2 linked regions of the Homo sapiens genome follow. The protein of the gene in region 1 purifies or fractionates together with the protein of each later gene. This does not show direct contact. Each region holds a gene or a part of one and is shown on either strand. Other genes may lie near its edges.

Evidence for each region.
Region 2: the proteins of SLC6A14 (region 1) and ATP6V1A purify together in Homo sapiens (affinity purification with mass spectrometry; one large-scale study listed by BioGRID and IntAct). This does not show direct contact.

Annotation. Positions count from the first base shown.
Region 1 is NC_000023.11:116,453,498-116,457,155, reverse strand, and holds part of SLC6A14 (sodium- and chloride-dependent neutral and basic amino acid transporter B(0+)), read right to left. Parts: intron 2,833-3,658; coding exon 2,714-2,832; intron 2,180-2,713; coding exon 2,080-2,179; intron 1,800-2,079; coding exon 1,690-1,799; intron 1-1,689. UniProt on the Homo sapiens protein: Amino acid transporter that plays an important role in the absorption of amino acids in the intestinal tract. Mediates the uptake of a broad range of neutral and cationic amino acids (with the exception of proline) in a Na(+)/Cl(-)-dependent manner.
Region 2 is NC_000003.12:113,749,941-113,753,598, reverse strand, and holds part of ATP6V1A (V-type proton ATPase catalytic subunit A), read right to left. Parts: intron 1-3,658. UniProt on the Homo sapiens protein: Catalytic subunit of the V1 complex of vacuolar(H+)-ATPase (V-ATPase), a multisubunit enzyme composed of a peripheral complex (V1) that hydrolyzes ATP and a membrane integral complex (V0) that translocates protons.

The sequences.
Region 1 (3,658 bases):
TCTCCTTGCTTAGGAATTGCTTCTATTCTTTCCCACTGCACAAAGATCCCCTTTTGACACATCAAAAACACACATGCATTTACACACATTATTGGTGAGCATTTACCAAAGCACATTTCACTTCCAGCATCTTACTGAGGGAAAAACAAAAAACAAACAAAAAAACCCTCAATATCTGCTTAGGCAATACAGTCAAATCTGAATGTTAAAGATGAACACATTATAAGGCCAAGTTAAAATAAACCCGAAATGTTGAAGCATTAAAACTAATTAATTAGAAATTGGTAAAGCAAAACAAAACAAAACCCAATAATTATTAAGGAGCTTCCTTAAATTTAGCTGTTTTTGTTTTATTAAAATCAGCGAGAAAACAATAAATAGATCTATGTTTAATTTTAAAATTAAATGGCTTAGCTCCATTAATTTAATTACAGTAATTTAAATATACTTTACAGTTACTATGAATGTACATAACTACAAAAGAATGGATGAGGGATAGTGGAGTCCAATACACATGACTTTATAAAAAATAGATGGCAATGTAAATCATTTCATATCTAATACTTTTGCATTTTAAATTAAATTCAGGTGTCAAACTTATGTAATCATTGAATATTAGCTTGTTAAGTGATCCAGCTAGACCTTCTAAGTTGACAAGGGGGCTTACTTTATTATGGAGACTTGTCAAATAAAAATATTTAGTGTCATTTTCAAAATCATTTAGCAAAAATATGGAATATCCAAATATTTTAATTCACCATGATCTCGTTCCAAACTGCTCAGCTTTTGAAAGTGATCTCATAATGTTAAAAAAAAAAATGTAATCCTCTCTACAAACAAATGTGGTACTTTAGATTTGAAGGAAATCCTGCATAGAATTACTTAATGGTCTTTTCTAGGAAAACCTTTGAAGCATGAAGGCAATGAAAACCAAAATAAATCTATGAAGCTTTGACACTGCCTCACCCCACCACCATTATTTCTAGTCCATAATCATTCTCCCTCCAGTGTAGTGTTTATTTTGGTGCTCAGCCATTTACTGTCCTGAAATGTTATTTGAACATTTTAAGTTGATAAGTTATGTCTCTCGAGTAAGACATACTTTTGCTTTACCTCAGCTTCTAAATAGTATTAATTGTTGAATTTATTGACATAAACCATTGCCCTTATTGACACAGGTAAGTTTCTTTTACTATCATCTGCCAAATACCTCCCTCATTAAGAGATAAAATATGAATTAAAATATGACTGTTGTTTCTCAGCAGTCAGTATATTTAAACTGAATTCTTTGAAGAGAGGATCTGGGCCTTATGCATCTTTGTTTTTTCTGTGCCTGGCAGAGAGGTTAGGAATATTATTGATGGCTCAACATATTTTTTTAGGGAATGAGCAAATTCATGTTTTATTTTCATTTTTTGTATTGATAAATTTTAAATTACTGATAACTTTTACATCTATACGAACCTGTTTATTTTCTCAAATGGTAAATGTTTAAACTGATGGCCTCAAAATAATACTGCAAAGGCATTTTAATTTAGGCAACTTGGAGGCACCAGCCATAAATACTGCAAAACTTGAAAATCATTCCTTTATAAAATTAATTTGCCTTTTGTCTTCAATGTGAATTATTAAGTTTATCTTAGAACATATGTATTATCGAAATCAAGTTCATGGTGTATTATTACTTACAATCAAAAGGATAGGCGTAATTACAAACCAGCAAGCTCTCCACCATAGCCAGAATATCCACCTCTTTGCTCCAATCATCATTTCTGTATCCTCAATGAATCTGTTCCCTCCTAAAGAAAACAAAGAGTACATTGAGTGCTTGCTAATATTTTCTTCCAGTAACCATTATGGCATCAATTATCTTTCTGTGTCTAAACATTTTTCTCTACCACAACAATGAATCATACACCTGTAATTATATTTTTACATAACATAATGTTGTGCAGTATATTGTACTTTGCTATTATAATAGTATAAAAATTAATAGTATAATTAGGTAAATATAATGAAAATGAATCAAACTAAACTATTTTAATAAAACTGGAAAATAATTTTATAGTTACTATTTACCATAAATCCAGATGATTCCAACTAGCTCCAGTATAGCTGCAATTAAAATGCCCCATCCAGCACAGAAGTGGTCAATCAGATGAACCCAGTAAATTCCAGCCTACCAAAAAAATGTTAATTACTTCTAAGTATATTTTAATTGTTTTTATGATTGATGGGATATTCAAATTGAATCTATTTATTTGATCTTGACATATGCTCCTTAGTTTCCCTTCTGCTAAAATGCGAAAAGCAATGTTTCAAATGTAAACTCAAATGTGACTTTAAATATCTCAAGAATCTTTCAATCTATACTGAGTCACTGGAAAGAAAATAAGCACTTAAATTTGTTGATTATCAGAATGGTATGCAATGTCTGTATGTTCTGAAGTGGCTGTGAGAAATGTAGTATGTGTTTAAAGTCTGTAATCTTATTGTAACTGAAGTAACTGTCCATTATTCGGCCTCCTCATCTGCAAAATAGACTTTCTATAAAAGTAATAATGGAGAAAAATGGGCTAAAACCCAGAAAACCTTGATCCAAGTCAGACCTGGACTTGTCACTAAGCATCCTCTTAAGCTTTGGTTTCTTTAGTTAGGTTATAAAGTATGTTCCAACTAATATGTTTCTATGAAAAAAAATGCTGTAGTATACCTGAGTCACACAGACGAGACCAAGGAGAAACAAAACCAAGCAGCAGCCCAAAGTTATGGGAACCCTCATTTTCTTCATCACTTTGGGAAATAAATCTTGAATTGTTGTTGTGATCGTTTCTTCAGAGGGGGAGAAATGACATGTTATATGTCAACTTATTTGCCAATACTGTTAATCACAGAATTCAATGTATGTTAATCAAATTTACAAATATATGTTGAAAATAGACTCTGAGCCCTGTTCCCTGCTTTTAAAAACCCACAGGGTTTTTTCTTTTGGCAGTCACCACTTGGTTCTGATGAAAATCAAATGCAGCGCTATTTGCTGTTTTTAGTCTGCTTTATATGATTTTTCATCGATAACAACTGTAAGGTAACAGTCCCCTGTGAACTGAATTAGTCTAAAAGGAAGAATTCTAGTAGGACTTTTAAATAAGGTAAATATTTGAATCAGTGGTGTGGAAACAGAAAGGATTCTAGGTTAAGAGATAAATGTGTTCATGAAATAGGGAACTGGCTAAGAGTAGAAGGATGTGAGAATGAAAATATCAGAAAATATGTTTGAGATTTTCAAGGACTTTGAAAGTCAACCAGAAAAGTCTAGATTTTATCCTATAAACAGAGTAAACTGAAAATATTGTGTGAGAGAGTGGTAGGATGAAAATTGTTTCAGAATTTCTCTAGTCATGTAACCTAGGTAAATCCCTACGTGTGCATAGAAGTATGTGCAAGGATGATCATTGCAGCAGTGTGTGTAATTTTTAAAAAATTGTATATCATTCATATGCCCATTATTATGGCAACAAAGAGATTGTGATTTAACTAGATCTATATGCCTGTGTATCAATGGGATTCATAATCAATGCAAAAACAACTTTCAGAGTCATATGCATGCTCTGAAACTTCACATTTATGTGCAAATTTAAAAATGTATATGATATGTACA
Region 2 (3,658 bases), on another chromosome or scaffold:
ATAAAATGCCTCGGCCATAATTTACATAACAATACCCCTATTAACAGGCATTCCCTTTGTTTCCACGTTTTTTGCCACTACTAACATTGAAAATTGAAACACTGTTGCAGCTAACACTCCTGTAAACTCTTACTGGTGCTTTTATTTCTAAGGAAAAGATTACATGGAGTTAGACTGATGGGTGGAAAATACATGTATTCTCAGTATTAACTGATGTTGCTTGATTGTTTACTAGGAAAAACTCTAACACTTCACATCTCCGCTAGCATTTTATGAGATAATCCTTCTCCACATATCCCTGCTAGCAGTAGGTTTACCACTTAATTTTTGCTTGTCAGAGAAATAATATTTCATTGTTAGTATATTGATTACTAGTAAGGTTACACATCCTTTACTGTTTGTTGAATGTTTGGATTTCTCTTCTGTGAACTTCTGGTGACATGTTTTATCCATATTTTTACTGGGTGAACTTTTTCTTAATTGGAAAGAGTTCTTTCAATGGTTAACTCATCTGTTACATATATCTCAAGCCTTTTTTTCCGCCTGATTTTGTCTTTGGTCCTTTATTTTTGCCACTAAAGAATCCTTCGTTTCCATGCAGTCTCATGTGTCTATCCATACTTTTATGACTTTTAGGTTTCCTATCTTGGTTTAAAAAACTACATCTGGATTGTTTGTATAAAGGAAATTTAGGAGATTAATATCTTAAATATTTTATTGTTTACATTTAAGCCTCTAATCCATCTGAAATCAGTTTTTGCATCTGTTGCAATGTATTGGATCAATTATATTTTCTTCTAGATGAGCAAGTTGTATCAGTTAACATTTATGATATATATGTGCCCTTTTTCACCATTGGATTGAATTATCCCTTTGAAATGTGGTAAATTATCTTATATACTGAGATTTACTCTGCTTTTTAAAATTCTGCTGCACTTATATACTTAAAATTAAAAATATATTTACACACCTATAAAATTAAATAACTTACTCAGCTACCTGGATGAGACAAAACATTTTCACTTAAGATATCCAAGTAGTTAAGATGAAAGAATTATTTAGGTGCCTTAATTTTCCATATCAAATTAAGAAATATTTTGCAATGCCTACTGACATTATGAATTCAAATATACAGAAGGTATAGTAATAAATTTTAATTTTTTCTTTAATGCATCAATCTAGAGATAATTACTTATTTTGATGCATTTCCTTACAACTTTTTCCATATGTATATACTATTATTATTATACATATGCTCTTTTTTCAATTTTAAAGGTATTTTCCAATTCAATTAGTCTTCTCTATTGTACCTTTAAACATTAAAAAAATTAAACTAAGAACTAAAAACTTATAAAGTCTGGTTGCTTTTCATTGCTCAAGCACATCTGAAACTCTTCTATATCATATCATATACCACCCATTTTATTTTCAGTGAAATAAGCTTAATTATTTTTCAGAAAAGAAACAAAATGTGGCATGTTGCAGATAAAATTTTTTTAAAGGCTTACCAAGAGAACAGTTTCAACAGATAGCATTAAGATCCAAAACTGAAATTTTTGTTGTTAGTCATAATAATACCAAAAATAATAGTGATTTTTAAAACCTTAAGATATAAGAAAGTGTTTCCTTCTAAAATTTAAATCTGAAAATACTTATGATATACCATTAATTTTTAAAAACAGCTAATCACAGTTGTAAATTTATTAACTAGAGCTAACTACAAAGAAATATACAGAAAGAGGAGTTTCAAATGTAAATAAATCATTATTCTAAAGATCACTTCAGTAGTTTCAGGTAAAAATAAATATGTTACTACGAAGATACACAACCACTTCAGCTGTCTTTATATATACATACACACACATTGCGTACTTTATATACTACAAATATTTACTCTATATATAGTATATACATAATATGTATATACTAAATATAAATGAATACACTTATAAAAACCAAAGTCGCTATCATTTCACCATAGGGAAAAAAGAGAATAGCAAAACTAATATTCTCTTCAGAAATTATATGGAAAACATTTTTATTGCTCACATTTCATTTATTTAAAATAAAGTTACTTAGTATAAAGAATAAATTCATTCCTAAATCAATAAATCCATTTGTTATAATAGACAATCAACATTAAGGAAAAGTCAATAAACTTAATAAAATCTTTCCTTAAGACAAATGAGTAATTTTTTTTTTCAGGAATAAAGTGATTCATAAACTCATGATAGCTATACTTACTGTTTAATTTGCTGATATTTTCCATTGCAAAACTACTAACCCTTGTGAATCATGAATTTAAGAAGGGAAGAATTTTACTCTAGTTTATGTCTCCATTATGTTCTCTACATTTCTTTGTCTATTTCATATAAGGATAAAAATAAGATATAAAAACACTTAATTTTTTTAAAAAGACAAAATTTTTAAGCTTATAAGCATTAACTCAAAAGTCCCTGCTCTACAATCTGTACAATTTTAATATACTTCTATAATCCATTGCAGGAATAAAAACTTCAAAATTGAAGAACTGCCTCCTTAAATTTATTCCATACATTAATGATTACAAGCTTTGGAAAATCTTTATATAGAAAATATTAAGACACTGCAGTTGCCCAAATAAGGGACTTTATCTTGATATTTTTCAGATAAAATTAATAAATCTGTTTTAGAATCTTTGCTACAAGTACACTTTTCTTGTTCCCCCATTTTTTGGGTAATAGCTTCTTTTCAAATTCTACTCTCTTCTTCATGCCCCAAACCTGCTGCTCACAGGGACATCAGTCAATTCTGTGGGTTGTCTTAAGTCTTTAGAAATTCAGTATATAAAATCAAAGTAGTTATCAGTAAAATTAATTAAAAATTTTTTTTACAAAATATGTTCTAGGCATTTTACATTCATGATCTAACTTAATAGCACCATCTATAGATTTAAACGTGAGAAAACTTAACCTTACTTAAGTACACTGTCCAAAGTCACACAGTTATTAAGTGGTAGGGCCAGAACTTCAACTAGGTCTCTATGACTGGGAAATCAATTCATGTAAAGTCTGAGCTACACTGCTTTACCATTTTACACACCACTTAGTTTTTTTTGTTTTTGTTTTTGTTTTTTTTGAGATGGAGTCTCACTCTGTTGCCCAGGCTGGAGCGCAGTGGTGTGATCTTGGCTCACTGCAACCTCCACCTGTCGGGTTCAAGTGATTCTCCTGCCTCAGCCTCCTGAGTAGCTGGCACTACAGGCGCGTGCCGCCATGCCTGGCTAATTTTTTTAATTTTTTTAAGTAAAGACAGGGTTTCACCGTGTTAGCCAGGATGGTCTCGATCTCCTGACGTTGTGATCTGCCCGCCTTGGCCTCCCAAAGCACTGGGATTACAGACACCACTTAGTTTTTAAGATATTTTCACATAGATTACCTAGGGTTTATGTCATAGGAAGGTTCCTAAGTATCAAACCTGAACCCCTCCCCAGCATTACGTAAAAGGACATATAACTAAAGTGGCAGAGCTGAATGAAGATCCTCTGACTTTTAGTCTAGTGCTAGTCCACTTATAGATCACGCAGAGCCACTTTTTCATTTAGTACGATTCATTCCTCTTCCCTTCTCTCCCATATTTTGATGATAACCATACTTATTAGTAAACAAACATGCTGTGA